Regions from separate parts of the Homo sapiens genome. Here all the other regions are linked to region 1. The links come from fine-mapping of genetic effects on gene expression. A gene starts in region 1. Each other region holds a variant in brackets. All regions are shown on one strand. Distances are between the middles of the regions.

Region 1 (4,373 bases):
CCACCAACACCAACCAGGTAATTAAATTCCTGGTTGGAAGAAGTTTCAAAATCCAAGCCCAATGTCAACATCTGGCAAGTCTCCATTTACCACCTACCAATACTTGCTCAAATTACACTGAAAATTTAGATAGAGGGTAAAGTACTAAGATTTTTAAAACCTATTAATTAGTTTGTACCCTCCGTTTAAATCACACATAAAAGCTAACTCCAATTGCAATTATAATCTTAGTGTTTGTCCTGTTGTCACAGAAGGGCAAGGGCTGACAAGAGTTAGCACGGACAATTAAATCTGATTTTGTCCAGGGGACTGGATCAATATACTGTGCATCATAATCTAGCCCTGAACTGCTGCCTCTCCTCCACCCCCAGGCCCTTGGATCAGGCGGTTTACCGCTGGGTTAGTAACTCTTTTCTCTATGATTTGCGCATCTCCAGAAAGGGCGAGGGAGACGCCTGATTCAAACTGCATTTGTTTACCACCCAATGGCCCCATCGTTATGCATTTCCACAATCCAGGAGGGTACGCTTCTGGTACCCCCTTTACCTGCCAAGTTCCTCGCCGGTGTCGTAGTAATCATCCACGTTTTCCTGCCTGAACACGGTCATGATAAACTGTCACGCCTCACCAAAGCCCAGGGCACTTCAGCTCCGCTTCCCAGACCATCACCACCGCTCCTGCGCCTCCGTAGCCCCCTCATGCATCAGTCTCCAGTCCTTTTGAAGAAAAAAAAAAGGCAATAATAATAGTAAAATGGCAACCCCAAAAGGAAGTAGACCTCCCCGGCGCTAAGACCCCGCTCGCTGAAGACCGGGTCTCCGGAGCTGCCCCTCCTCGCGGGGTGGAGAGGAGCACCCTTTGTTAAAGCTGGGCGGCCAGGGACGCCCCCGACCCCTCAGCCCCGCGCGCGCGTGGGGCCGGGCACCACGGCACCCCGAGGTCGGCGTCCCCAAACGCTGGGCGGTCTGTTGGGATCAGAACCGGCTCCGGAAGTGACTGGCCTCCCCGCCTCCCCTTTCTCTGCACACATGCCCACCCAGCTTTCCCACCTCCAGGGACGCCGCGGAAGAATGAAGCCCTCGCCCAGACGGTACGCGCCTCACTGGGAGCAATCTCTCTCCAGCCTGCGGCAACGGTGGCACCCCCGCGCCACCTCTCGGCTCCCGCGCCTCTCCTAACACCGTGGCCACCCTCTCCCCTTCCCCGAGCGAGGCAGTCCCCAGAGCCACATTCCTGGCGACTCCCTCTCCGTTACCCGGCCGACCCGGCGTGCGGCCGCCCGGGGGAGCAAGGGAGGGAAGGGAGCGGCCCACCGAGGCGCAGCAGTTCGCTCCAGATCCTCGCGCCCCGACACAAAGCGCCTGGTCGGGCCGGCGCCACCTGTTCTCACCCGGCCCGCGGGGCTGGGGAAGCCTCCCGGCTGCGATCGCACTTCTCCCCGAAGCCAAGTTTCCCTCCGCCTTGGCCTTCCCAGTTGCTCGAGGCACTGCCCGGACAAACCCCACCGCGCCCTGGCTGGGAAAGCAAAAGCTGGCGCCGGGGGTCGGGGGGACCGGGGAGCCGCGCCTGGCTACTCACCCGGGCGCCTGGGAGCTCCCCCGGTCCCTCCGGAGCGCTGTCGGAGGCCGACCATAGGCGCCAGCGCCGGAGACTAGCCGGGGCGGCGGCGGGAACACAGCTAGGGAGTGAGTGGGGGGCGCAGATCCCTCCCAGGCGCCGGCCCCAGACCCTGCCGCTGCGAGTTGCCGAGTCCCCTCCGCGGAGGGAACAAAGTCCCCGGCGTTGGCTCGGTCCGGCTGTCCTCCTCACACTCCGAAGCAGCCTCTCGGCTCCTTGCCGCCTTTTGGGCGGAGGGCGGCCGGCAGGCGGCCAATGGGGACCCTGCAAGCGGGCTGGCGGCGCGGCCCACCCACCTCCGAGCTGCCCTGCCAGGCCGGCGCTGCGGGTTCTGCGCGGCGCTCGCTGCTCCTCCCAGCTCCGCGCTCCGGGCTCGCTGGCGCGCTCTACCGCGCACACCCCGCACACACCCACTCGCCCCACACCCACGCCGGCCGGGGAGCCAGTGCGTCCGCCCGGAACGCGGGCGCCCCACCTGTGACACATTGCTAAGCTGCCCTCTGACTGGGTTCTAGGGAAACACGGTTCTTCCGTCCCGAGATGTGTACTGGGATCCCAGCTTGTGCCGGGCACGGTGCTTGGTATGGGAAAATCACATAGAACAAAACAGATTTTTTTAAATCCCTGCCTTCCGGAAACCTGCATTCTGGTGGGACAGATAGATAATAAATATGTAAGCTAATTAATAAGGTAATTTTGGAGGATCAGTCCTACGTTTACCACGAAACAGGTTAATGGAATAGAGAATGGCAGGAAGGGAGCGTACCTCATTAGACTGGGTTCCTCTGCCGGACTGGTGTTGGAGCCGAGGCTTGAAGGCAAGAAGGTTTGCAATCTGAAGAAAGGGTTGAGGTCTCCGAGACCCAAAGAAGCAACAGAGACGCAGAGTTTATTTGCGCTATCCCATATGCTATTGGCTATTGTTGAGCTGAAATGTAGCTAGTCCCAAATTAATTGTGCTGTAAGTGTAAAATACACATTAGAGTCCAAGACAGTATGGATATGAGAATGAAAAATATCTCATGAATATTTTTATATTCATTACACTTTCAAATGATAGTATTTTGGATACGTTGGGTTAAACAAAATATATTATTAAAATTAATTTCACCTGTTTACTTTCTTTTTTTTGAGACGGAGTCTCACTCTGTCGCCAGGCTGGAGTGTAGTGGAGCGTGGCAACCTCCACCTCCAGGGTTCAAGTGATTCTCCTGCCTCGGCCTCCCCAGTAGCTAGGACTACAGTCGCGCGTCACCATGCCCAGCTAATTTTTGTATTTTTAGTAGAGACGGGGTTTCACCGTGTCGACCAGGATGGTCTCCATCTCTTGACCTCGTGATCCGCCCGCCTGGGCCTCCCAAAGTGCTGGGATTACAGGCGTGAGCCACCGCGCCCGGCCTCACCTGTTTACTTTTTAAAAGGTGGCCACTAGAAAATATAACAGTACCTATGTTGCTTGCATGAGATTTCTGAGGACTGTGCTGGTCTACACAAAGATCCCATATCCACTGGAGACCTCTATCCACTTTCTCTACTTCCCACCCCTTGCTCCCACCTAATGTTTGGGTGGAGACGAAGAAGGGTTGATTCCCCACATCCCACTGCTGGAGAACCCCAAACGGTGAAAAGCTCCTAAAGGGAAATCTATTTTACTGCCTAGAATGATGAAAACTGACAGATGAAGAGATTTCCGATCCATACCGTTGTTCAAATCCCCAGGCTTTCTAAACTGAGTTGGTTCAAATCTCTGTGGTTCAACAGAAATTTTCAACTGTGAAGATTTTGGCCTCTTGAAAACAAGGCAAAACAAAACAAAAGAATACCCCTCAGGCCTTATGTCAAATCCTAGTCTTTTTTTTTTTTTTGAGACGGGTTTTCGCTCTTGTGGCCCAGACTGGAGTGCAGTTGTGAAATCTTGGCTCACTGCAAACTCCGCCTCCGCCTCCCGGGTTCAAGCGATTCTCCTGCCTCAGGCTACCCAGTAGCTGGGATTACAGGCATGTGACTATGCCCGGCTAATTTTGTATTTTTAGTAGAGACGTGGTTTCACCATGTTGGTCAGGCTGGTCTTGAACTCCTGACCTCAGGTGATCCTCCCGGCTCGGCCTCCCACAGTGCTGGGATTACAGGCGTGAGCCACTGCGCCCAGCCAAATCCTAGTCTTAAATAACATTGCATTAATGACCCACAGGAAGGGCACACAGGAATCAAGGGGAAGTCCCCAAATTGGGAGATGGTATTAGCTTAAGCAGTGGGCTTGATAATACAAAAGGGTCTTGAGAGGTGAGAAATACAGTCAAAAATAACAACAACAACAAAAAAAGAGTGATTCATCTGGGAAAATGCAAATGAATACATCTGTTGGGAGAAAAAATTTAAAACACAGATGTTTGGGATAAACTTGGAAGGTGTTTATGGATGACTGCCATATGGGTAATATTTATTTTCTGCAAAATAAAAAATATATTGTCCGAGGCAATTAAAAGGACTGAATCTATTTGGCAGCTAGAATGTCTTAACTACCCTAATGGACAATGATGTTCACCGGAGATTATCTGGAGTAGTGAAAAAGAGCATGAAATTTGGAGTCACAAAATTAGATCTAGTATTGGTGGAACCATTTAACAGCTTAATAACCTTGGATGAGTCACTAACCCCCGAGCTTTTTGTGTACACCAATTTAGACAAGCATTTTAGAAAGGGGAAATGTGGTCATTTAAAAACATATTCACAAATTCTTTGACACTCCCCCAATC
Region 2 (4,373 bases), 53 kb after region 1:
TTTCATTTGCCACTTGACTGCAGTTTTAATTTTTTTGTTTTTTAACACATTGTATTAGTCCGTTTTCACACTGCTTGTAAAGACATGCCCGAGACCAGGCAATTTACAAAAGAAAGAGGTTTAATGGACTTACAGTTCCACATGGCTGGGGAGGCCTTACAATCATGGCGGAAGGCAAGGAGGAGCAAGTCACATCTTAAGTGAATGGCAGCAGGTGAAGAGAGAGACTTGGGAAGGGGAACTCCTCTTTTTAAAACCATCATATCTCCTGAGACTCATTCACTATCACGAGAACAGCGCAGGAAAGACCTCCCCCCATAATTCAATCATCTCCCACCGGGTTCCTTTCATGACAGGTGGGAATTGTGGGAGTTACAATTCAAGATGAGATTTGGGTGGGGACACAGCCAAACCATATCACAGATAAAGACATTTCAGAGCCTTCCTCTTGAGAGTCTCTCCTGAAAATGACCTCTTTGGGCATAGGGCTATACTCCAGATTCTTCCTCCAGAATTAATCTTGGTTGCACATAGCTGGAAACCCCATTATGCAATTTAAACAAAATAGAGGTTGTTTTTCCTTTGGTATAGGAAAGATCTGGAGGCAGAGAGCCTAGGGCTGAGATCAGGCAGCTGAAGTTCTGATCAGCAAGCTGGGCTTCGTTATTCCTTCTCTTCCACAACCTTCCTACAGTCTTCTCATGGTTGCAGATGGCATCTGGTGCTTGACCCACTAACTCCGAATTTCCCTGTGGAATCTAGAAGGGAAAGTGGAAGAGCAGAGGAGTACCCTTCTCAACTGTCAGTCCCCTTTAAGGAAGTAGCGTGGAAACAACACTTCTATTGACATCTCATTGGCCACCCTGAGGAGCATGGCCTTCTGGGAAATGTAGTCTTAACGAGGCTGTGGCTGCCTGAGGTGTCATTCAGTTCGTTAGGGAGGAAGAAGGGAAAATGAATATTGCAGAGGCAGCTGGTGGTCTCTGCCACAGACCATCCCACCCCCCTGCAGTCTTTCATGTCTCTCCCTGCTCTATTATCAGAAGTTTCCTGGCCTGTCTATGATTCCCAGCTCTTAAATTTTTTTTGGTGGAGGAGTGGGAAGAAGCTAACATGTTAGAGTCTATGAGGGTTTAATATTTGTTATGAAAGGGTTACTGTATGGATGAACTTTTAATAGCATAATTTCAGGTATTTGCGGTAATCTGAAGGAGAAGAGACATTATGAGGCAACTACACTTTGCACATGGAAGGCCACACTGGATGTCACCTCCTCCCCAGGGTCCCACAGACTTGCTGGCCTCCCCTCGGCTCTCCATTGATTTTTCAGAGCTGGATCTAACAGAGCCTCCTCACCTCCAGTCTTCAAGCTGCTCCAGTTTCCAAGTCAGTGAGTTTTAACCCTGGCTTTACTTGAGAATCAAAACATACCTCTTTCCAAAATACCGTCACATGTGGCTTAATGACAAACATAGGTTCTGAGAAATGCGTCGTTAGGCAATTTTGTCATTGTGTGAACATCATGGAATGTACTTACACAAACCTAGATGGTATAGCCTGCTACACACCTGCATTACAAACCTGTGTAACATGGGACTATATTGAACATTGTAGGCAATTGTGACACAATAGTAAGTATTTGTGTGGCTAAACATACATAAACAGAGAAAAGGAACAGTAAAAATATGGTATAAAAGACCAAAAAAATTATAGGGCAGCCCCATTATAATTTTATAGGACTACCATCATATATGCAGTCTATCACTGCTCAAAATGTCATTATATGGCACATGGCTATTCATATATCTGGACTCCATTATAATCTCCAAGGTTGTATTGTAATCATATGCATTTTGAAAAAGCACCCCAGTTCATCCTGATGGGCATTCAGTGTTGAGACTACAGTTTTTGGACATTTCTGATTAATGTGGAATAGTTTTTGTTTTAATGCTTCAGACTAGTCCCAAAAATAAAAAATGGAGAGTTAGTTTGAGAATGCCTCCCCCCAACAACCACCATTTGCCTGACCAGGGAAGCCATGCCTGCTAGAAGATGGAATTCTGGAATTCTGCATCAGTAACTGAATCACAGAGCTGTGTAACTGAGGAGCTCCTCCTCTGATAATGGGGGTGTTTGTTGGAGCTGCCTGAGGGGATTCTGTACTTTGCTGAATCAGATTTTTCCTTGAACCCTAATTCTAACTTGGGTGGCTATCTTGTGCAGGAAAGAAAAAAACTTTCCCTCTACCCTCAAGTTTGTCGCTGGGTCCTTTATATTAAACTGACAAAGACCAATAAACAAGAGGAAAGGTTTATTTTTCATGCACATGGAGGAGGGCAGGCTTTACAGAAAAGAAATAAAAATCCCCC[A/C]AAGAAGTGGTTATGACATTTTAACAAAGGGTAATAAATTGTGATAACACAAAGGAAAAGGAATTTGGGCTGTGTGATTGTTAATTTTTTTTTTTTTGAGACCAAGTTTTGCTCTTGTTGTCCAGGCTGAAGTACAATGGTGTGATCTTGGCTCTCTGCAACCTCCACCTCCCGGGTTCAAGCAATTCTCCTGCCTCAGCCTCCCGAGTAGTTGGGATTACAGGCATGGGCCACCACACCCGGCTAATTTTGTATTTTTAGTAGAGACAGGGTTTCTCCATGTTGGTCAGGCTGGTCTTGAACTTCCAACCTCAGGTGATCCGCCCGCCTTAGCCTCCCAAAGTGCTGGGATTACTGGCATGAGCCACCGTGCCTGGCCTGTGATGGTTAATTTTAGGCTATATAATTCAGCAGTACTATTGGTACTTGAGTTCCCTAGGCTCAGTTGACAGAGGAAAAGAAGACTAGGGCCTTATGGAGGAGTCTGCACAATAAACAGGCACCTAAATTGTGCAAAAGGAAAGAGCTGTAGCACTTTGGCTTTCTTCTAGGACATCCTTAAAGACAATAATGAAAGAAAATCTTCACAATGGGCAGAACTGCAGGCGGTTCACTTTGCTTGAAAGGAGAAATGACCAGATATATGATTACACACTGATTCATGGGCTGTAGCCAATGGTTTGGCCAGATGGTGAGGGAATTGGAGAGAACATTATTAGAAAATTTGTAGCAAAAGAAAATGGGAGAAGAGGTATGTGGATAGAGCTTTCTGAGTGGGCGAAGGATGCAAAGATATTTGTGTCCCATCTGAATGCTCACCAAACGGTGACCTCAGCAGAGGAGGGCTTTAATAATCAAGTGAATAGGATGACCCATTCTGTAAATACCAGTAAGCATCCTTCACCAGACCCCCCTGCAATAGCTTAATTGGCTCGTGAACACAATGGCCATAGTGGCAGAGATGGAGGTTATGTATGGGCTGAGAGACATGGACTTCCACTCCTCAAAGCTGACCTGGCAGCAGAGACCAATACTGAGCCCCAATATGGCACCATTCCCTGGGGTGATCAGCCAGCTACCTGGTGGCAGGTTGATTACGCTGGAGCATTTCCATCATGGAAAGGGCAATGTTTTGTCATTACTGGAATAAACACTTACTCTGGATTTGGATTTACCTTTCTTGCTAACAAGGTTTCTGCCAAAACTACCATCTGTGGACTTACAGAACATCTTATCCACCACCATGGTATTCAGCACAACATTGTTCTGACCAAGAAACTCACTTCAAAATCAAAGAAGTGTGACAATGGGCTCAGACTCATGAAATTCACTGGTCCTATCATGTTCCCCACCATCCTGAAGCATTTGGCCAGTAGAACTATGAATGGCCTTGTGAAGCTACAGTTACAGTGCCGGATGGGTAACAATACTTTGCAGGGCTGGGGCAAGGTTTTCTAGAATGCTGTATATGCTCTGAATCAGCATCTAATATATGGTTCTCTTTCTCCCATAGCAAGCATTCATGGGTCTAGGAATCAAGGGGCAGAAGTGGAAGTGGCACCACTTACCATCACCCCTAGTGACCCACTAGCAAAATATTTGCTTCCTGTTCCCATGACTTTGTGCCTTGCTGGCCTAGAGGCCTTAGTTCCAGAGAAAAGAATGCTTCCTTCAGGAGACACAACAATGAGTCCGTTGAACTGGAAGTTAAGACTGCCACCCGACTGCTTTGGGTTCTTCATGCCTCTGGGTCATCAGGCCAGGAAGGGAATTATGGTGTTGGCTGGCATGTTGATCTTGACTACCAAGGGAAAATTCTACTACTACACCACAATAGAGGTAAGGAAGAGTATGTCTAGAATACAGAAGATCCCTTAGGGCATCTCTTAGTATTACCACGTCCATGATTAAGGTCAACTGGAAATTACAAGAACCCAATCTAAGCAGGACTATAAAATGGCCCAGACTCTGTAGGAATGATGGTTTGGGTCACCTCACCAGGTA
Region 3 (4,373 bases), 47 kb before region 1:
GCATGAGTCACTGTACCAGGCTGATTTTTTTTTTCTTTATAAAGCTAATATGGAATGCAGATTGCTCTAGGCAGTGCAGCCTCTTCTAACGTCATCGGAGTCCTCTGTTAAAAGAACAGGTAGGGAAAACAAAGAGATGAGATGGAAAGGAGGGAGAACGGAATACAAGAGAGAAAAGAGAGCTGGGTAGAGAGAGGATGGGGAAAGACAGAGAAAGGCTCATTCGTCTTGTCACCCAAAGCCAACATGCTGTCTCTGGATTGATCCCACATCTCTGTTTTCTGCATGTTTGATGCTTTAGCATTGAGGCCTTGTTGACCCTGGAGGCACTGCCCCTCCCAGAACTAGTGGATTCCTAGAAACTGTAAACTCACCTGCCCATCTTTCCTATGCAGACCCAACCAATTCAGAGCTCAGACCACCCACCCCTACCTCCTATGGGCCACAATTCTGCCTTAACCAACCAAGGGTCAGATGCCAGGCAACCAGGGACAGTATCTACCTCCCAGAGCCTGCTGAAATTCCCCAAACTAGCCAGCCCTAAATCCTGTCCATTCCTTTCTGCAGAAACCACAGTAGAGGCTCTTGCTCTCGTTTTCCCCTCACTCCCACTGCCTCCTGACGGACCCTGCTGCTTCTTGGGGCCTTGCATCACATGGGATGCTCCTCCTCTTGGGAACTGTGAGATCTTTTCATTGACGGTCATCTCCCAGATCTGTAAGCTTCACCATATCTGAATAAAACCTACATTTTAAAATGGTTTTGCTCCACCACCACCCAATCTCACCACAGGAAAGCTCAAGTTTATTTAACTGAAAATCAACTTCCCAGCCAAGGAGCTGGCTGGACTCTATGACTCAACCCTCTATGCTATGGGAAGTACTGAGAATCTGTACTGCAAAAACAAAAACAAAAAACAAACCCTCTTCTTTTACACTTTCTGAGGATGCAACAAAATGGTCTTACAGAATCATGAGCAATCACTGAAATATAGCATCTTATGGAACTGATGAGACAATCAGATGAACCCCTTTATTTTAAGGCTGAAATGTGGCCAGGTGTGGTGGCTCACACCTGTAATCCCAGCACTTTGGGAGGCTGAGGCGGGTGGATCACCTGAGGTCAGGAGTTCGAGACCAGCCTGACCAACATGGTGAAACCCCTTCTCTACTAAAAATACAAAATTAGCCAGGTGTGGTGGTGCATGCCTGTAATCCCAGCTACTTGGGAGGCTGGACAGGAGAATCGCTGGAACCCGGGAGGCAGAGGTTGCAGTGAGCCAAGATCCCGCTATTGCACTCCAGCCTGGGTGACAAGAGCAAAACTCCATCTCAAAAAAAAATTTTTTTTAAAGCTGAAATGCCTCACCGAGGCTCACCAGCCGAGGCAAGCCTAAGCATTCTGACTGATGTCTGTCTAGTTTGCCTATTTTCTTCTAGTACCTTCCATGTTCGCCTAAAATTGAAACTAATGAATTACTTAGAGTTCTTGCTTGTGGTCTACTGATCCTCTAGTATTATGTGTATTTTAATTAAAGCAGCCATTACGATCTCTTCATCCCAAGTAACTGCCAGAGCTGAGATTAACAACAGTTTAGCTGTTGGTTCAGGAACCCTTTCTAAAGCTCATTACGCACTTCCTAACCCTGCACCCGGGAGCCTGGTTTGCAAGGAGAATTGGGGAGATCAGTCAAGTGGAGGCCTCAGATTTTCTGAATAAAAGGTGTTAAGCACTTTGGCAGCTGGTCTGACAGCCTCTGCTCTTCAGGAGTTTTGTACTTGCTGCAAAGTGCAGGGATAGC[T/C]GATGATAATCTTCCAGATAGGAAGGCAAATTTGAAAAGCCATCCATCAAATTCCGAAAGTAACCTAGATTGTGTGGGGACAACCACCAACAGTACTGAAGATGGGCCTGTCCTCAGGTCCAGAGTGGCCTTGTCTGTGAGAGGGTGGGGACTGGGCTGCAAAGGTGCATGGAAGCAGAGCTGTGTCCCTACCTCACCTTGCTGGGGTAGGGAATGGGACCAAATTAAAATCTTCACTGTTCAATTTCATCCTCTAGCAAAATGTCTTTCTTCCTGCATTTTGGGTACTCGTAGGAAAATTAGCTTTATGTCCGTCTTAAACATGCCTTTTAAAATGATCGTTTTCCAGCTGTCCCTTGTTCCCAGTTTGAAGTCTTACATGCATAATCCATCTCACCAGTAAGAGCCCGAGAAAAAGGACTGTAGGGACCACCCAAAGCCAGCTACCAAAAATAAATGTTACAGCCACTAAAAATATCACAAAAATAATAATTTTCAGAAAGCTGCATATTGTGTTTGCAAGGAACATTAGAAAAATTTTCTGGTGTATGTGTATACTTATATGCATATTTACGTGTACATACATTAATGTACACAAGTGTGTATGTATGCATGCATACACACATACACACTCACATATATTCTCATGTACTATATATTCTTCACCATATCTATAACATTTTTCCCTGTTCATCCATGCAATATCTAAAAATGAAAATTTGTCATTGTCAAAAAGCATTTATTAACTGAAACTCATGACAGAGATTTGAGTGAGTGGAGTTATGGGTGATTTTTCTCATGTTTCTAAAATTTAGATAATGAATTATGTTGCTTGTACAATTTGTAAAAGTTAAGCTAACATATTTATATACTTATTCATGTATGAAAATTTGTCATTGTCAGAAAACACTTATTAACTAAAACTCATGACAGAGATTTGAGTTAGTGCAGTGATGGGTGATTTCTCATTTTTCTAAAATTTAGATAATGAATTATGTTGCTTGTATAATTTGTTAAAGTTAAGCTAACATATTTATATACTTATTCATGTGTGTTCCTCTTCTGAAACGTTAACTGAAATAATTTCATAGATTGAATCCCTGCCTTCCAGAGGATTATATATTTACAATTTCTACCTTTATTATTTCAACATGTTTGTTTTTAAATATGACAGACTGCTAATTAAGGCCACATGAAATCTTCTGAGTCCTCAATCCTTAAAACTATAGCATAATACTATAATAAACAAAATCCAAACACACAAGACTACAAAAACAAAAAAGAAAAAACAAAACCCTCTTCTCTTACACTTTTTGAGGATGCAACAAAATGGTCCATCTTACAGAACCATAAGAGATCACTCAAACATAGCAAAGATAATGCATTTAATGTAGATATTTAAAAAGTGAGTCTTTTACATTTTTCCCAAGTTTTTATTACCTTATCCAGCTCACAAACTGTACTGCCAAACAATGCAATGCTTAATAAAGCAACTATTTAGAAAAACCTCAGATAAGGACAAATATTAATTTGCAGAAGGTTCCATGAAATGAAAAAATAATCCTGAGTCATTTTGGCTGATTGTGTTGTTTTTACTAACTACATAAGAATCCACCTATCTACCTCTTCAGAGAACATTTATTAACAATGTATTTTAAAGAAACTGCACTCAAAATGATTCATAGTCATATTCAACTATTATTAGGCAATGGAAATTATGTCTATGAAAAGTGTTCATTTGTAAGTGATAAGCACTGAAACTCAGACATAGGCCCATTAAGGAGGCTATTATAATTTTGTTTTTGTGTGAAGGTCTCCTTCTTGCCTTTTCTCCTCTACTGTGGTAAGAGCAATTTTCTTATCAGATCATCTGTTTTAGACATTCTTAAGCAGAACTATCACAGCCCCGACCAAGAATTACATGTTGTTTTGCACATAAATGTGAAACTTTAAGTAGCATTTTTATATGTTCTTTTATTTTAACATTCTCTAACTTGCTCTATACAACATGTCCCATATTTTAAATCCCTACTTATTAAAATAATTCTTATAAAATGTCCCCAAACTTCATTGCAAAAGCAATAAAAATTTGTTTTCTAATGTCACCCATGCAGTCTATAGTACGCTAATTAATGGTAAAAAGACATGCTACCTATGAGCCAAGTTACCAGAACATCTATTTATGATCGTGATGCCATTTCATGCATGTCCATGAACTCTGTCCTGGGGAGTGTGAGGCATGCATGTGGGCATCCCATTGCTGAAGGCCCAGTGAGGGGTTCCATATTGACTCCAAAGCCAGACAGATCTCTGGGCAATGGCAAAGGCATTAATCTCGGACTCAGACAGACTTGAGTTTCCCCTTCTCACTGGCCGTTTGTCTTTAGGTAACTGAGCCACTCAGCCACAGCTTCTTCATCCTTAAAATGGGAATGATCTTTCCTACCTCAGAGGGTTTGGTGAGCCTTCCGGAAGTCACTGAGTGTAAGCCAACCAGTACCATAGGTACTTGGTAAATACTGATTTCTCTTACAAAGCAGAGACCATACATAGGAAAAGCGAGCCAGAATCC
Region 4 (4,373 bases), 110 kb before region 1:
GAGGGAGATGAGAAACGCCACAGAATAACCTGCCGCAATCAGTTTCCCATAATAACATCCGACGGGCATGGCTTGCCTGAGAAAATCAGCAACTTGCTTTAAAAACAAGTCCTTTTTGAGTGATTCTGGCTCAATTTTACCCATTCATATAATTAGTGTTGATGGAATTAACAGTTAAAAATGGGGTTCGTGCATTTAAGATGGAGGGGGAAGAGATGGGGGAAGAGATAAAGAGAACAGAGGAAGAAAGGCAGAAAAACAAACAGAGAGAGGAAAGGAATAGAGTGAGAGGGGAGAAGGACATATGCTTGAAGCTTAACAGGAAACTCAGAAAACAGATGTGCTCACGGCAAAGATGAACCCCAGAAAGTGGTGAACCGCAAGACTGGGAGACCCTCTTGCAAACTGGGTGGAACCACAGTGATGGGAGTTGCTCTTTAGAGTTTGTTCTAGATCCCTGCAGCTGGGTTTCAGGTCAGGCAGCACGGCATTGTTCTCACACACCTCATACAGCAGAACCAATTCCTGATCCCTCTCTCGGGCTCGCTGTGGCGTGGTCCAGCTGGAACGAAGATGCCAGCTGACGCCCACCACACCCTCTCCCCAGCCTGGCCCAGGCGGCACTCACAGTTCCAAGATCAGGATGACGTCCGTCTTGTTCTCATAGACCTCGTGCAGGGTGATGACATTGGGGTGCTGGATCTCCTTCAGGATGCTGACCTCCCGCTCGATGTCCTCGCGGCTCACACCCCGCCGGCTGGACTTAGTCCTCCTTTTCTTGATGAATTTGGCGGCATACTGGAGGCCGGTGCTTTTCTCACGGCATTTCTTCACAACCGCAAACTGTCCACTGAAAAGAGAAGATGGAGGATTCTTTATCGTTCATAAAAAAAACAGGATTTGAGTGAGGATGTGGCATGGTGCAGAGGGGGACAAGAGAACTGTGAATAGGAAAGTTCCAATTGTGGAAAGTAACAAATTAGGTAGGGATGTTTCTTATCATCATTCATTTACACTAAGCCTGTTTCTTTATAAATAATGCTGCAAGGAATATAAACTTTTAAAGTATATTTTATTGAAAGAGTGATCATGTCTCCATTTCTGTCCTCTCCTCCTTCCCTCCCACTTCAGGTCCTGGGACAGCAGCAAGGAGCTCTGTGATCTGACCTCACTTCCAGCAAACTCTTTTCCTGCACGTCTAGTCTCTGAGCCTGAAAAACGAGGGATTGAGACCAGGGAATCGGTAAAAAAAAATATATATGAAGTCCTGCCTTCAACAACATATTTCTAGCACCAATATTAACCAATTTAAATACACAGAACAGAAAAAGGTCTATTATTTTGTTTATAATTAAGCGACTGATAAGTCATATGTACCAAATATTTGTTGGTCACTTCTCCAGCATTATCTCCCCTCTCCTCCCGTCTCAAGGTATTTCTACCCAGGGATCTTTGTGGTTTTGGGGAAGCCGATTCCACCCCCAACTGTAAATACGGATCATGTGACCTAGGCTGAGCCAATCAGTCCACTCCATTCTCCTGACCACAATGCCAAGTAAGACCCTTCAGAGGATGCAGAGACACAGGCTTTCTGAGACTCTTTTCTCTTTTGAGTGTGACAGAACCCCCCCCTCAAAGCCGCTGCCAACTGTCTTGGGACCATGAGGAGAGCCACTCTTAGTTTGAAGACAACCACTGCAGAAGCAGAGCCAGTAAAAGGAAAGAAACCAGGTCTGCAGTGACACCATGGAGTCACTGGATCAGCCCCGGCCTGAAACCATCTGCCTGTGATGTTTCAGCGACATAAGCCAATAAATTCCTTTTATGGCTCAAGTCAGTTTGATGGGTTTTCTACTTCTTGCAGAGGAAAGCACCTTAAACATCACAGCAAATAACCAGATTCCCTTTCCCATATATTAAAGACTGTAATAATAGAACTTGACTCAAAATAATAAGGGGTAGGCAGTAAGTGCGTGAGACGGTGAGAGGTACACAGGCCCCACTGATAGTCAGCGGAACACAACGGAAAGACCCTCCCGGCCCCATGCTGGTGCCCTTCGTTCTTCCCTAGTGCCCAAGGAAGGGTCGATTCACCCATCACAGGATCTGTATGTTTCTTGGTACCTGCTGGATAACTGCTATGTAAAGAATTATCACAGGTATTTTTAGCTGGCTTTATCCTCACACGAAGACAAAAGCCAGAGAGAAAAGCAAATTAAGGATAATATTTTGATGTTAAAGAATGGATACTTTAAAACGTTACTCATTTACTTTAGCAGTAGGAGGCCAGTGAAGAAGGAACACAGAGAGAAGGATTATCTTTATAGCCGTGTCAAATTTTTTGCATGACAGGTTGTTAATACCCGCTTTG[T/C]CCCTGCAGCAGGATAGCTGAGAAGCTGAAGAATAAATCACACTGGAATGCCAGCACCGACTGCCTGTAAACTCGCTACCTTAAACAATTACGGGGTCTATGTAATGACTTCATTACAACCAAAATCCAATTTCTCTGAGGAGTAAAAACCTTCCCTCTATTGTGGGGCGGAGGGTGGCAGAGATGGGGCATACGGAGAGAAGAGGGAAAAGAGCTTGAATTCAAAACACAGTCAGCTGCTTCCTTTAGAGTCCAGGCCCCTCCTTACAAAGATGTTATTGTGTCCCCACCAGGCAGATTCAAAAGGACCCAGGATAGGGAGGCCCAGCCCAGCCCAGCCAACCAACAACCAAGCTGACAGTTCCAGAGGCTGGGCCCATTCATACCTCACACATGGCCAAAGCAACTTGTCTCAGAGACTTCCAACTCAAGGCACACTCAGTAGTTTCAATCATGGTGCTTTAAAATTCAAAACTAAAAAGCTGAGAGAGAGAGAGAGAGAGAGAGAGAAACAGAGAGACAGAGAAAGAAAAACCGCTTTGGGAGGCCGAGGTGGGTGGATCATGAGGTCAGGAGTTCGAGACCAGCCTGGCCAACATGGTGAAACCCCGTCTCTACTAAAAATACAAAAATTAGCCAGGTGTGGTGGCGCGTGCCTGTAATCTCAGCTACTCAGGAGGCTGAGGCAGGAGAATTGCTTGAACCTGGGAGGTGGAGCTTGCAGTGAGCCGAGATTGTGCCACTGCACTCCAGCCTGGGTGACAGAGCAAAACTCCGTCTCAGGGGGAAAAAGAAAAAAAAAAGAAAAAAGAAAATCCTTCTGGCAGGAGAGTCACAGAGAATTTCAATGCAAGCCTAGATACAAAAACTGTTCCACGTGCGTTTTCACCTCCAAATGTTCTATATTGGAAGTTTCTCCATTTTATTTATGGGAAGATGGTAAGTAAAGGCAGGTTAGCCCTGATGGCAGGATGAAGGCAGGTGCTGAATGTCATGTGTGCTCATGCCCGAGGGAACTGTGGTGCCTTCGTTTACAGCAAAACCTGGGGAATGGACTCTGTCACCTGACAATGGATCCCTCACTCACACTGCAGGGTCCCCATACGAAAAGTGCTGGCTGGTGAGGAGGGGATAAGAGCTGGTGGGTAGGAAGGCTCTGTGTGGATGCTGGGGTACTGGCTAACCCTGACTGCAGAGAGTAAAATGAGGGTCTAGAATGAGCTTGGGAAACTTGTTCTAGACCTACTGCAATGTCACCTCTTTTAAGATACCGTTCCCTATTCTTCCCTGACACCCCTAACAATCTATTCCCTTTCCTCCAATCTGCCATATCCCTGAGTCGAAAGAGCACCCCATACCCCTCAGGGGCACCTGCTGTTTTCTGCCCATTCTTGCCTTTCCCACCCTCCCAGACTGCCAATGCCTGGGGGACAAAGGGCTGCCAGGCTCATCTTCACATCTCCTGAGGCCCTGGGTGCAGACCTACTTCATGTAGTCCATGCACAATGCACATATGCTGCAGCTGACGCCTGAATCTATAACCCTGAGAACCCGAGGAGTTAGACAAAGTGTTCTGCATTATAGTTCAACAGAATTGTGTAACGGCTAGAAGCCAGCTGTGTAACCCAAGGTTTATTTAGGACTTAGCCACTCTAGGCCTCAGTTTTCTTATCTGTAGAGTGGGCATAATAAGTGCCTGTCTTGGAGGGAGTAGGATGAAATGAGCGCATGAAGTGTTTAGGACAGCACCTGACCATAGGGAGTCTTCAGTAACTGTTAGCTATTATTAATCTGCGACAACTGGAGTTATTTTCATCAGCACACTGTTGCCCCAGTCTCACAGTGATGCAGTATTACCCCCCAAGTACCTACCTCTCATGACTGCCAGAGAGAAAAGAGCCCTCATAGGACAAAAAAAAAAAAGCCCATGACAGGGCTGTCCTGTGCTAACGATGTATACAACTATTGCTAAATCCTCACTCCCTTCCTCCTTTTGCTGCCT
Region 5 (4,373 bases), 59 kb before region 1:
TGCTTTCTGCACGTGGGAGCCCAAATGGGTAGATGCAGCTCACAGAGCAGGCTCTAACTGAGCCCCCATGTGGCTATAGCAGGCTGTCCAAGGAATCCAATGAAGCAATGAAGGGGTCTGCAGACAGGAACTACCAAGTCAACAAAAACTCCCTCCATCACAGCCCTTCCCTGCAATGACAAGTCACAAACAGCAGAAACCAAGAGACCAGCTAGTATCGAGGAATTGTTCGTTTTCGTCGAAAGGGACGTTGGTGTGCAATGACCACCTTACAGCTTGTGTATCTGTACTCACACGGCTGTGTGTGTGTGCATATGTGTACTTATGTATGTGGAGCATATTATCAAGTGATTCTGAGATCCTGTATTCATGGAAGATTTTTAGTTGCAAAGCTTATTCGACTAGATCCCTTCATTCTTTTTCATCTTGCTTTATTTATTCTGTCCCGTTGATCTGTGGGTATATCCTCAGGGGTGCAATGCAGTCCAGTGGCCTGCTCTTGACAAAAGAGCATGATCCATTTTGGTAAATAGCTCCTGGGATGCTTCAGGGAGAGGTGCTGACAGGCCAAGATGCATACCCACTGTGCAGTAACATGTGAGTCCCTAAGAGAGTCCATGACCACCATGTGAAACCAGACAGACCACAAGCTTCTGGCAGCTCTCAAGGGGCTGGCAAGATGACAGGACTGTGACAAGCTAACTGCCCATTACCACACTGGGCAGGACCTCACAATGCTGCTGATCAAAATTAAAATGAAAGATTTATTATGGCTGAGCAAGTAAAAGAAGGAAAACATCCAAAAGATTCCAAACTGACTTATCCAACAAGAGACACGCCTGGCTAAAGGATTCGGTTTTTGTTTTTTGTTTGTTTGTCTTCAGACGGAGTCTCACTCTGTCACCCAGGCTGGAGTGCAATGTCATCATCTCAGCTCACTGCAACCTCCGCCTCCCAGGTTCAGGTGATTCTCAAGCCTCAGCCTCTCAAGTAGCTGGGACTACAGGTGCATGCCACCACACCGAGCTAATTTATGTAATTTTAGTAAAGACGAGGTTTCACCATGTTGGCCAGGCTGTTCTCGAACTCCTGACCTCAAGTGATCCACCCACCTTGGCCTCCCAAAGTGCTGTGATTATAAGCATAAGCTACCGCGCCCTGCCAAGGATTAGGTATTTTTTAAAATCCAACACATTTTTCTTTTAATGGATCACTTCTCAATGAGTAATGTTTTAACAGGAGGGGGGTTCTGTAAGAGATAGAAAAAAAATCTAATGGCTTTGTCCCAAGATCATTTGTCAATAAAAGCTACTGACCATTTAATATTATTTTAAATTCATAATTCCTTAATCGGCATGGTTTTAGAGCTCACAAAAGATGTTTTGAATCACAGGAAGAAAGCTGTATTTTCTTCATGAGATTAATAATCTAATTTGGAAGGACGAGGAAGGCAGTGGGTGAAACGTAGAAAGAACACGACAGGAAGGTACAGGACAAAGGGTCTCCCCTGACAGGGCCATGGTGGGAAATGAAGATGTGGGTTTCCAGACTCTTCTCAGATGGATCTGAGCATTCCTCATGGGGCTGCCTGGATGGATGTGTGGCTGCCAGGTAACACTTGCTTTGAACAAAGGTTCTGAGCCCAGAGGTTTGAAAACCACTGGCCTTACAATGCCAGACACTGAGCTTCGAGGATGTTGAGGAAGAGTTGCTCCTCCCTTCC[C/T]GCAACACCGCCAAGAGGGAAGGGTGAGGGGAAGGGCCAGGCTGCCTTCCTCTTTTCTGTTCTTTATGAGATATGAATCCCTAGAGGCCAAGGGGAAAGCCGAAGGTCAACTGCCCACCTCCGCCAAGGTTCCTGATAACACATCTCAGAGAAGCTCCTCTCCCACCCACAACTGCAGGACTGGCTCTTCAAGGAACACGCCCAAGGCAGCCCAGGAGGCCTGGCCTGCAAAGGCTCTGCCCAGCAGGCACAACTCATGTCTATTCTCACTCCCTACTAGAAACAAGGACCAAGAAAAGCAATTCCAAACCTGAGGAGAGCATTCCTTCTCCTGAGGGTATGGGCTGAGGAGCCACACAGGCCTCGATATGTTCTCCAGCGAGCTCCTGGAGCGAGAAGTACCACAGCCTTGTACCATGATCACAAGTGAAAGACCTCACCTTTCAGAGACCAAACCCTGCTCTGTGAAAGGGTAGCTGAGGCTACTCCACAGAGTTTCAGCAGGAGACCGCCATCCTCCCCATGCTCTGCCAATCCCCCGCACTCCTCCTGACATTAGCATGATGGGGCCAGGCTGTAGCATTCACTGATGTGGCCAGAATACTAACCCATGCATGGCTTCCCATGACACTGAATAAATCCATGATTCAAAGACAGCAAAAGGAAGCCCCTTTGCCCGTGACGGGCAGCATGCACAGTGGGTACAGGTACACACACGTGGGCACCCTCCCCAGCTCTGTGAGCTTTGACAAAGGAAGCTTGGGCAAAGTACCTTGCCTCTCTGCACCTGTTTCCTCCTCCATAAAATCAACATAATACTTGTACCAACCTCACAGCGCTGTTGTGAAGATTAAATGAGGTAACACAGGAAAAAGCACTTAGAACAATGCCAGCCCACACAGGTGCTGGGCTGCATAAGTCATTATTAACTACATGTCCACCCAAAATGTCCTTCTATTTTTGGGTCCTGCATCACTGATGAGTTTCGGTGACGGAGATTAGAATACAAAAAAACAGTTCTTCATATGCCCCGGGCAGTAATTACCATGGTGGCATTTACTCTTGCTTCTTCCTTCATAATACCTCATTTTCTCATTCGTCTTTTTAGGAATAAAACAGAAGCTACTGACAACACGTACTAGTGACTACTTCCATTCCTCTAAATAATAATTTTCCCATGCAATTGTTTAATCATATTGATATGGAACTCGCCTAGCTTTTAGTTAGCCGGTAATTTGTTAACAGTGTGCTCTTGCATGACTGCATATTTGTTCTTAACGATAAGCTTTAAAGTGCTTCTGGCTGCAGTGGCTTACGCCTGTAATCCCAGCACTTTGGGAGGCCAAGGCAGGCAGATCACCTGAGGTCGGGAGTTCGAGACCAGCCTGACCAACATGGAGAAACCCTGTCTCTACTAAAAATACAAAATTAGCTGGGCGTGGTGGCGCATGCCTGTAATCCCAGCTACTCGGGAGGCTGAGGCAGGAAAATTGCTTGAACCCGGGAGGCAGAGGTTGCAGTGAGCCGAGATCACACCATTGCACTCCAGCCTGGGTAACAAGAGCGAAACTCCATCTCAAAAAAAAAAAAAATAACTAAATAAAATAAAGTGCTTCATGATAAATAAATTTCACTTTGTTTTTTCTGTTGTTGTTTGTGTTACTAATACTTCTTGAGGAAGTATATCAGATAGCCCCAGGGTGTCATTCTCATCTAGTCCTTGTGTCTGTGACAGAGAAGGAAAAGAGAGAAGGCAAAAGGGAGGGCAGATATGTTGCTTAAGAGGTCAAGACAAGGCTTAGCTGGGACCTAATTGTCTGACTTAATGTCTGCTTAAGAACGTGCTGTATTATGGAAATGCCCTAACGGGACAGCTAGATCAGGAACTGGGTTTTCTGGGACCATGAGGTTTAGAAATAAGGAACTTCCTTTGCTGACAAAAAGGGATGTTATGTAAACCCCCAAGTCCTTAAGTCATAATACTGAGGCTGCCCTTGAGGGCAGGGTGATGAGACCCTGGTGCACACCCACACAGCTTTCCCCACTTCTTTGCTCAGGACTCTTCAGAGGTCCCTGCAGGGTTCCTCCATGGTTCTAGAAAGTTCCTTGGCACTAAGAACCCTCTCCAGAGATCAAGGGGCCTCTACAACTGATACCATCATTAGATTCTCACTGTAGATTGTGGCAGAGAACTTGCCACCAGAAGGGCTTCCCTTTAATGACCTCCAGGAGAACTGGCTGAAGCCAAGGGCAGAAGCCCTGACACTCTCAGACCTCCGGTGGGGGTGGGGGAAATGGCTACACGGCCTGGGTGGGAGACAGCATCAGCTTCCTCCCTCCCGCCAGAGCAGTCAGGCCGAGGCCAGCTGATGGCACTTTGCTCATTTGGGTCCAGGTTGCCATGGAGATCAGCGATCTCCCTAGATGCCTCCTGACTATAGGAGCAACTAGCGCATTACTGCCGAGGGATCTACATGAGCGCCCTAAGTCCTACTGTGGAGAGGGCCTTCCTGTGGAAGGCTCCTAAGGGTGGTCCCATCCATCTTCTGGCTTGAGTCAAAGACAGAGTTCCAGCATAGTCACTGTTATGTCCGGAGGTAAAAATTCTTTAAACTGAATTTCCTAGATGAAGTAAAGACTTTTTTTTTTT
Region 6 (4,373 bases), 120 kb before region 1:
TTGCACACATGTTTGTTAAGTCTCAAATTTCCCTGTTTGTGTGGGCCGTCTGTTTCCTGGTAGGACCCAAACTGACCCAAACCCTGATACTCAAGAGGATGGGGTACTTTGCTCTTTAGGAAACTCAGTCAAGAGTTTTCTGAAGCTCATGCAAGTAAATCAACGTTTCCCCCCAAAACTGTCCTTCTCCCTGGTCAACTAACTGGTTCTTGAGCCACACGTGACTCTTTTTCAGATCCTGCTGTTCTTCCTGCTCTATCTGGACTTGACATCCATGTATTGGGCCAAGCACAGTCTTCAGTGCTGTGGGTGCCAGAGTAGGACGTAGTCTTGCCCTCAAAGAAACATATGCAAGGGGCATATAGGCACATGCCACTATCACACCAGAGCCCCCATGAAGCCATCCCACTCCTAGGCTTCAGCAATCCCACTGGAAAACTAGAACATCTTCTGCCCACCCCCAACTTCATGGAAATGCTAAGAAATGAGGGGCAAGAACAATGCAGCCACGCTAGAGAAGGAAGCAGAAAGGTGAGGGGCCCTGGGAGGCCAGGTTGGCTTTCAAAAGCTTCTAAATCACTGCTTTCAAATGGAGGAGGAGCAAATGTGTCTCCAGAACCACTGGAATGTGAAAGTCACTCTCAAGAAGGAAGAGCAAAGCTGGCCAACCAGCCCACAGACAATGGGGCCTTGCAGGCAAAATCCTACAGTGGCTTAGCAGAATCCTAGGGCTTAGAAAACTCAAACAAAAGAATTCTCTCTCCAAGAGGCTACTGTCTGAGAATGAGCATCTCTCTACCGGCTCCTGTGACCTATATGTGGACAGAGGGGGCACAGCGTTCCTTACCTGCAGGGTGGTAACACCACTCTCCTAGAGTTGCACGCAAGGATTAAATGAGATCATTTCAGGGAGGCGCCCACTGTGGCTGACTCAGAAAGGTAAAGTGAAGGGCAGTTTCCCTTTTCCTCCAAGGAAAGCCACTCAGTTGTTTAACCATATCCTCTCTTCAGGCAGTTTGGGAAGACCCATGCCTAAGTGCAAGTGCCTTAAAAGTAGTGAACGTTCTACCCTACATTTTTGAAATAATCAACTCTACTTGAATTTTCCTATCAAAATATTAGGGGAAACGTCAATGACACTTCTGTCGTCCAGGGAAGACCAGGTCCTTGAGCCCATTTCTATGTAACTCTGTTAATTGAATAGTGTTTGCATCTCACAGTAGCCATGCTCGGTCACTGCCTTCATTCAGAGGCTGGAAATGAAACTGACATTTCAACACGGAACAAGCACATATTCCCAGCGGTCCCGCTGGATCCCTGATGTTCCTCATTTGCATTGCAGTAATTTTGACAATATTAAAAACAAGTTACACACAGGGAAATAAAGAGTTGTTAAATAGAAGAAGGTGAGGTAATACTTGGTTATCTGGAAATACAAATTAGGAGGAAAAAGCAGTATGAGGTTGTTCTTGGAAGTATTTGCTTGTTAAACCACATTTTGCAAGGACGTGAGGCAGAAGGGGATGCTCTGAGGGGCTCAAGGACGTCTTGGGAAGACTGTCACTGACCTGCTTGCAGATACTGATCTAATAAAGCAATGCTCTCATGACCTGTGGCCTAGGCACTCTCCGTCTTGGAGTACCAGCTGGAGACGAACCATCCCCGGCTGCCTGTCTCCAACCCTCACTCCAGTCACCATCCCAGAATTCTGGGCACAGCAAGACCTGGATGTGGACTCCGTATGACCAGAGTGGGGGAAAGCCAAATGGAAGGTTTGAGTGGAGCCTGACCACCAAACAGGCAGTCCCAGGGCCTGGAAGGGACTTGGCTCTGGGTGGAGAGAGGCAGCTGCCTGGCCAGGATGGCGGCAGCCACAGTGCCGGGGAGCCCACGACAAGGATGGGGAACATACTGGAGCAGCGAAGAGAGGGAACTGGGCAAGAGGCAAAACCAGTACCTGTGAGGGGACAGCTAAAGCCGCAATTCCACAAAGTTCTCTTCCATTACACC[C/T]GCTTGATGTGCAGGTTGGGGAAGCAGTTGGCCAAAACAGGAAGAAGAAGATATGAGATCAGGGAGAGTTTCTAAGAGGAAGTATGAACAATTTGCAGGACCTGCACCACCCCAGAGAGTGATGCAGAAGAGTCTAGTCCCTGGGAAGGAGTCTAAGAATAGTCACCTGCCTGGAGCTGTGACTAAGCAGCATTGCCTCAGTTTCCCAAACTTTAACCACGATCATGGGTCTTTCTTGGAGATAAACAGAGATTCCAAATATTACTTATAGCTCATGTATTCAGCATGGAGAACATCATGGCAGATACTAAAGTTATGACTATATCCTAAAAACTACAGATCTATGAGCTCACAGATACCACATAGGGTTTGTTTGTAAGACTCCTATTGTCTCACTTTTTCTTAAGACCGTGCAGAAATCAAATAATCCACTTCAGTGAGTGAAAATACCTATTTAATAACATTAAGGGAACACTTTTCAACTGAACTGGCAAGAAGTGAGAGTATGGGGGAAGACACACACAGGGTTTTCTTTCTCAAGAGAATGCCTGGATGGAAAATAACCTATTTTACATGATTTAGCTCTGCTTTGAAAGGCAGAGACTGCTGCCAAATGCACTTTACTTCTCTGCTCTTGCCTAATAGTAGGTATCTGAGGAGCGGGATGCCAGAAGTGGAACCCACAAGAGCTCTTGAAATTACCTTTGTGAATAAAGACAAAAGTTCAAAAAGTCAAAAGAGCTGGCTCGAGCTCAGAAAAGAGAGAACAAATGTGGCAGCAAAAGAACGCATTGAGGAAGTCTGAGTGTGTGCTATTGTGGTTCGTGAGCGCCCAGAGAGAAGCAGAGACAGGGAGACTGAAGGGCTCTGTGCCACACACCCCATTTATCAGCTTCCCTAAGTCCCGACCACCACATTCAGCTCTGTACAATTTTTGCCACTTTTAAGATCCTTTGAAACTATCACTTTAATCACTGCATGTGTTTCTTCAAAGGCTCTTGCGATTCTGATCTTGCTGACCAAGGCACCATGTGTTCGTCTACATACATGCACCACGCTGACATACAATGAAAAACAAAGTTGTATTTGTATTCTGATTATTTTGCATCTCAGTTTGGTTATGAGAGAGTGAGCCAACTGAACCGTGATCCTACATAAAGTGACCTAATATTGCACAAATGTTTGAATACAACTTAGCAGTTGTTTGTGATGGGCAAACTGAATTCCAGAAATTATTAACTTAGCCAAAGTAAAACACAGAGCTAAAAAGGAGTTGTTCAATAGGCACAGCATTTCAGTTTTGCAAGACGAAAAGGTTCTAGAAATCTGTTGCACAACAATATGCATAGAATTAACACTGCTGTACTGTGCACTTAAAAATGGTTAAGATGGTAAACTGTATGTTGTTTTACCATGATTAAAAAAATCAGCAAAATTTACCTTTTTAAATATAAAAAATGCATTATTCACTCCACGCCCTGCACTTGGCTACAACCATAGCAGACTGCACTAATTAAATGGAATTTCCTGTCACAAAGAAAGAGAGAGAAAGCTAAATGGGGTTACTCTGTTTTAAAGATGTGCTTCGAAATGGAAGCAGAACAAATAAGGGGAGACATTTAGGATTGGAGAACCAAACTGGCTTGATTTCTCTGGAACAATCCACCATGCCAATACTTACTTGGCCATCTTAGCACTTTTACTTTATAATTCTTAACATGGTAACCTTTCAGACATGTGATCCAGAGCTACTCAGGTGACCATCCTGAAGCAGGCCAGAACCTGGTGATGTCCATTTCTTCCTTATCTTATGTTAGACTCCAAACCCCCACCCCCGCTCCAATCCTTCTCTGCTCAGGCTATCTGCAGGGAGTGAGATGTATGTATTGCGTCATTTTGCAGTTACCTGATGGCATTACCATAATTAGGCATTATGTTTTGTTTTGTTTCTAACTTGCTTATAGAATTTTAGATCAACATGCGAGTAGGCTCCCAGTCCAGGAAATCTAGTTTCTGTTAACTGGTGCCTCTGTGTTAGTTTCCTAGGCCTGCCCTAACAAAGGACCACACATGGGGTGGTTTAAAACAACAACCTGCTATCACATAGTTTTGGGGGCTGGCAGTCCTAACTCAGTACGTTGGTAGGGATGGTCCTTCTAAGGGATCTGAGGATGAATCTGCTCCATGCCTCTGTCCTAGTTTCTGGCAGGTTCCTTGGCGTATAGATGCTTCACTCCATTCCTCTGTCTCCACAGGGCCTTCTTATAAGGACACCAGTCCTATCAGATTAGGTTCTCTGTGCTATTCCAGTATGACCTCATCTTAACTAATTACATCTAAAACAATCTCATATCCAAAAAGGT
Region 7 (4,373 bases), 25 kb before region 1:
AAGGTCAGGGCATGCTGGAATGTGCAGGGCCTTTGGGCCAAGAGAAACAGGCACCCCTTCCCCCAGGGAGAGGCCCAGAGCATCAGTGGACTCCAGCCCCTCCTCTGTAAGAACCTCTATCGGGGCACAAATGGCTCATCCACCAGGAACGCCTTATCCAAGACACTAACTTGCCTCTCATGGGCTGTACCTGTTTCATCCACCTCGCTGAGTAGAGATACTGCAGACCATCTTTCAACATGTTTAGACAGTGCACTCACTAGCATGCCTGTGATTCTGAATATAGCAAACATAAACACCGTAAGGCTTGTATTTTCCTAGAGTGGGATTTCATCAGTCTAGCTCAAGCTTCATTTCTGAAGCTCTTCACTCCCCAGCTCACAAGAGCTCCTGGAAACAGCAGCTTTGCTGATTCCCTACAGCTACCAACAGTGCAGGAAATCTCCCTGGTTGAATCCAGCCAGCCCTCAAACCATGTTTTGATGAGCAAATGGTAACTGAGGGGCTCTGGAAAAACTACGCCTGGAGCCATACTTCACACTTCACACGAAAATAAATTCCAGGCAAATCACAGACTTAAACATACATAATAAGCCATCAAAGTACTAGAAGAAATTATGAGAGAATATTTTAAAAATGAATTTAAAGTGGGCTGGGCACGGTGGCTCACATCTGTAATCCCAACACTTTGGGAGGTCAAGGTAGGCAGATCGCTGGAGCCCAAGAGTTTGAGACCAGCCTCAGCAACATGGCAAAACCTCTTCTCTACAATAAATTTTTAAAAAATCAGTTGGGTGTTGTGGCTCGTGTCTATGGTCCCAGCTACTCAGGAGGCTGAGGTGGAAAGATCTTTTAAGCCCAGGAGGTCGAGGCTGCAGTGAGCCATGATTGTGCCACTGCACTCCAGCCTGGGCAACAGAATGAGACCCTGTCTCAAAACAAATAAACTCAGAGCGGTAAGGGCCTTTCTAACTGTGATACAAAACCCATAAAAGATTAAACGAATTTGATAAATCCGACTATTTTAAAAAATACAGCTGTCTGGGACGGTGAAAGACTTCTGGAGATGGATAGTGGTGATGGCTGCACAACCAATGTGAATGGACTTAACGCCACTGAATGTGCACTTAAAAATAGTTAAAATGACAAGTTTCACATTTTATCACAACACAAAAAAAAATCATGGGGAGAAAAGTACCAGAAACAATGCCAAAAGACAAATGACAACCTAGAGAAAAGATGTGCAAATCATAACATGAACATAAAGCTATTTAATAGATAAAGAGCTCCTACAAATTAATAAAAGTCTACAAACGTAGAGAAAAATGGGCAAAGAGTATGAATAGAAAGTTCAAAGCAGAGACAAATAGTTCTTAAACATACTTGAAAACATGCTTACACTTATTCATACTTAAAAATTGATGAAACTACACTTATCAAAGTAGCAAGAATCAAGCAGCTGTGAGACAGCGAAAGAAGCCAGCCAGCTTTCTCTTGTAGTTGGGCTGAAAACTGACTTACGGTCTATGAAGAGTAACTTGGTAACACATACAAGAATGACAGATGCATGTTCTCTTTCATCCAGCAATTCCACTTCTAGGAATTTACCTACAGATAGCTTCAACATTTTGTACATCAGCAATCATTGCAGAATTGCTTATAATAGAAAAATTAGAAAAGAATCCTAGAAGTTCACAGACAGAAAGGGTTAAATAAATGACAGTAAATCATAGAGAAGAAAAAGGCATGTCTTCCTATGTAGTAATGGAATGATTTTCAAGTTATGCTATGAGGTGAAAAAACAAAAAAGCCAAAGGCAGAACAATGTGTATAACATGCTACGATTTCAGTAAAAACATGAAAAAATTTATGTTTATTGTCTTAAATACACATAGAATATATATGGAATGATCTCAAGACTCACTAGAAGGAACTAGTCACTGGAGGGCAAGATACTGTCTTTGACTTTCGAACTGTGTGAATGTATTACATATTTCATTTTAAAAGATGTAAAGGGACCTGTCTGAGAAAAAAAATATAACTCTTGTTCTCCATAACTGGCCATTCTAGTTAAGTATTGTTGGTGACTACTGTCTTAGTCCATTTTCTGTTGCAGAATGGGCAATTTATAAATAAAAGCAATTTATTCAGCTCGTGGTCCTGGAGGCTGGGAAGTCTAAGAGCATGGCGCTGGCACCTGGTGAGCATCTTCTTGCTGCATCAAAACGTGGCAGAGGGCATCGCATGGCAAGAGGGCAAGAAAATGCTCACTAAATATGCTTGGGCCTCTCTTCCTCTTATAAAGCCACCAGTGGCACTCCCACGATAACGCATTAATCCATTAGCCCTTTCATCCACTAACCCACGTATGAATTAATCCATTCATGAAGGCTCTGCCTTCCCAATCACCTCTTAAAAGCCTCACCTCTCAACACTGCCATACTGGAGATTAAGTTTGAACATGAGTTTTGAGGGGATAAATATTCAAACCAAAGCAACTACCA[T/A]AAGTCATCAAACTGCTAGATAAGAAGGTCTTCTCTTTCCTAAATGATGGGGAATAAAATTGCCAAAAGATTGGATAAAGCTGGAAAAAAAGTACACTAAATGAGATGTCATCCTTCTCCTCTTCTTTGTACCACAGTGCCCCAGTGCTGACATCCTAGCGGAAGGCAGGACATGGCAGCTGAGTTCTGACAGTGGAGACGGTCTCTGGTGCCCCTCCTTTCCTGTGATTCTTCAATGCCCACCCTGGACCTTGTCCTCATGGGATAAGAACTGGAGTCCCATGGACTGGCTCCTGGTCCCAGCTTTGAAACCTCATTCATCCATCTCACCAATATTCACTGAATCTCTAATCATACATTCAGCACCTCCCTGGGTCTGGGGCTAAAGACTGAATAAGACAGACAAGCACCTGCCTTTCCAGACCTTGACAATGGAGCTAGTGATGTGCTCCAGCCTGCCTGTGCTGGCTCACAAGAGACAACTGTTCATTTTTCAGGAATTTCATGACCTGGTTGCTAAACACAGACACCCTTAGGTGATACAGAATCCAACAATGCTTCAACCCCTGCAACAACACCAAAAGCTTAAAACATAGCTAGCACTATTGCAATCAGCAGTGCTGAAGCCAAAATGAAGCTCAGCTTAAGGAACATAATTTGTACAAGGTGAGAAATAGTCTAACAGTAGATCACATATTAGATTTAATGGTAATAAATTTACTAGGTAAAAAACTAGTGAATTGGAATGCAACTCTGTCAAACCATTGTCAGTCATAGGTTGGCCACAGTAAAAATCAATAAAAGCATTCTGTGAGCCTACATTGGCTGAATGGAATTTATAATAAAGAGTGCACATAGTTTGTTATTAGTTGTAAATTGTATTATATACCCTTTGTATCAGTACATGTATAGATATATGTGCATGTATATTTATACTGAGTATGTATATATACCTATGTATGTACGCACACAGGTATGTATGTATACACACACAAACATTTCAATTCACCAGTGCATTGAACTCTGCTGCCTCAAGCTTAACTTCTTTAAGCTCTGGTTTCCCAGTTTTTAAAAGAAGTATAGAAAACCACTTCCCACCTATCTTCGAGGGTCAAAAAGAAACCATATAGGCTATAAAATTGTTACCGATATCCTAATTCATCCCCCCAAAGTGGCGGATTTTTAAACACCTGCTTCAAACAACTTTCCCCTTGTCTTCCGGCTTTCAAGCACCTGTCTTCCTGTCTTCAACCTCTTTATTATCACAGGAAGAAGTGCAACCCAGAGAACAAGAGTTCCACAGAGCTGAAAACTGCTGTCTCCAGCTGTGCCTGTCCCTGTCTGAACAGGGAGGACTTGGCTCTCCAAGGTCCTTTCACAGCCTCACACCCCAGCAGTTCCTCCACTTCCTCCCAGAGTGCGAGGAGGCTAATTCACACCTTGTTGTGATGCTGGCAAGGCTCCTGAACCCTCAGCACCAGAAGCCTATTTTTCCATCAATCCGTTTACACAATTCTGGAACCCTCTGCTTCTTCTCCCTAGGTGCAACTCCAAGCTCTTCCTATAGAACTAATTTTAAGCCATAATTAAATCCTAACCTATTAGAACACATGATACACCTTTCTACAAGCATGAGAAGCAATTAAAACTTACCTGGGAAGAAGTCAATTCTATATTAAGACTTCCTTCTTCCTTTTGGAAGCTCCAATTTCCTTTTTTCTGTTTGTTTCCTTATCTTTATTAACAACAACAAAAAAAAGTCACAGCATTTCAGACTACTCAAACACACAAACACTAACAAAGGCACCCACAGTGACAGCCTCGTCCCTAGTGTCTGGATCAAAGGCCAAGCTGGAGAGCAGGTATGTC

Alleles and levels. Positions count from the first base shown, and alleles are read on the strand shown. Sizes are in standard deviations (SD) of each study's normalised expression. Not every link is listed here.
With allele C in place of T in region 3, the expression in monocytes after interferon gamma of the gene that starts at base 1,819 in region 1 is lower (moderate effect, 0.48 SD a copy in Fairfax 2014).

What was found. PIP is the estimated chance that this variant, and not a neighbour inherited with it, causes the effect.
Region 2: its variant is fine-mapped to the expression of DAPK1 in stomach (GTEx, PIP above 0.99).
Region 3: its variant is fine-mapped to the expression of DAPK1 in monocytes after interferon gamma (Fairfax 2014, PIP 0.95).
Region 4: its variant is fine-mapped to the expression of DAPK1 in testis (GTEx, PIP above 0.99).
Region 5: its variant is fine-mapped to the expression of DAPK1 in whole blood (TOPMed, PIP above 0.99).
Region 6: its variant is fine-mapped to the expression of DAPK1 in whole blood (TOPMed, PIP above 0.99).
Region 7: its variant is fine-mapped to the expression of DAPK1 in whole blood (INTERVAL, PIP 0.92).

What each region holds. Positions count from the first base shown.
Region 1 is chr9:87,495,313-87,499,685 of GRCh38, reverse strand. It overlaps DAPK1 (death associated protein kinase 1), which reads right to left and starts at 1,819. Exons shown (of 26, transcript NM_004938.4): 1 at 1,579-1,819; 2 at 547-716. The coding sequence starts at 608. RefSeq lists silencers at 861-970, 1,181-1,370, 1,741-2,090, 2,111-2,170 and an enhancer at 713-1,470.
Region 2 is chr9:87,442,325-87,446,697 of GRCh38, reverse strand. No RefSeq gene overlaps it. Among named protein-coding and RNA genes, the nearest start is that of DAPK1, 53 kb to the left of the region's middle. The variant A/C (reference allele first, on the strand shown) is at 2,370.
Region 3 is chr9:87,542,524-87,546,896 of GRCh38, reverse strand. The region is part of intron 2 of DAPK1 (death associated protein kinase 1); the gene reads right to left. Among named protein-coding and RNA genes, the nearest start is that of DAPK1-IT1, 8.7 kb to the left of the region's middle. The variant T/C (reference allele first, on the strand shown) is at 1,802.
Region 4 is chr9:87,601,431-87,605,803 of GRCh38, reverse strand. DAPK1 (death associated protein kinase 1) reads right to left here. Exons shown (of 26, transcript NM_004938.4): 3 at 629-850. Among named protein-coding and RNA genes, the nearest start is that of DAPK1-IT1, 50 kb to the right of the region's middle. RefSeq lists enhancers at 277-336, 387-436. The variant T/C (reference allele first, on the strand shown) is at 2,372.
Region 5 is chr9:87,554,449-87,558,821 of GRCh38, reverse strand. The region is part of intron 2 of DAPK1 (death associated protein kinase 1); the gene reads right to left. DAPK1-IT1 (DAPK1 intronic transcript 1) reads right to left here. Exons shown (of 2, transcript NR_146781.1): 2 at 4,363-4,373. Among named protein-coding and RNA genes, the nearest start is that of DAPK1-IT1, 3.2 kb to the right of the region's middle. RefSeq lists an enhancer at 2,819-2,988. The variant C/T (reference allele first, on the strand shown) is at 1,724.
Region 6 is chr9:87,612,265-87,616,637 of GRCh38, reverse strand. All of the region lies in intron 3 of DAPK1 (death associated protein kinase 1), which reads right to left. Among named protein-coding and RNA genes, the nearest start is that of DAPK1-IT1, 61 kb to the right of the region's middle. The variant C/T (reference allele first, on the strand shown) is at 2,011.
Region 7 is chr9:87,519,877-87,524,249 of GRCh38, reverse strand. The region is part of intron 2 of DAPK1 (death associated protein kinase 1); the gene reads right to left. Among named protein-coding and RNA genes, the nearest start is that of DAPK1, 24 kb to the right of the region's middle. The variant T/A (reference allele first, on the strand shown) is at 2,505.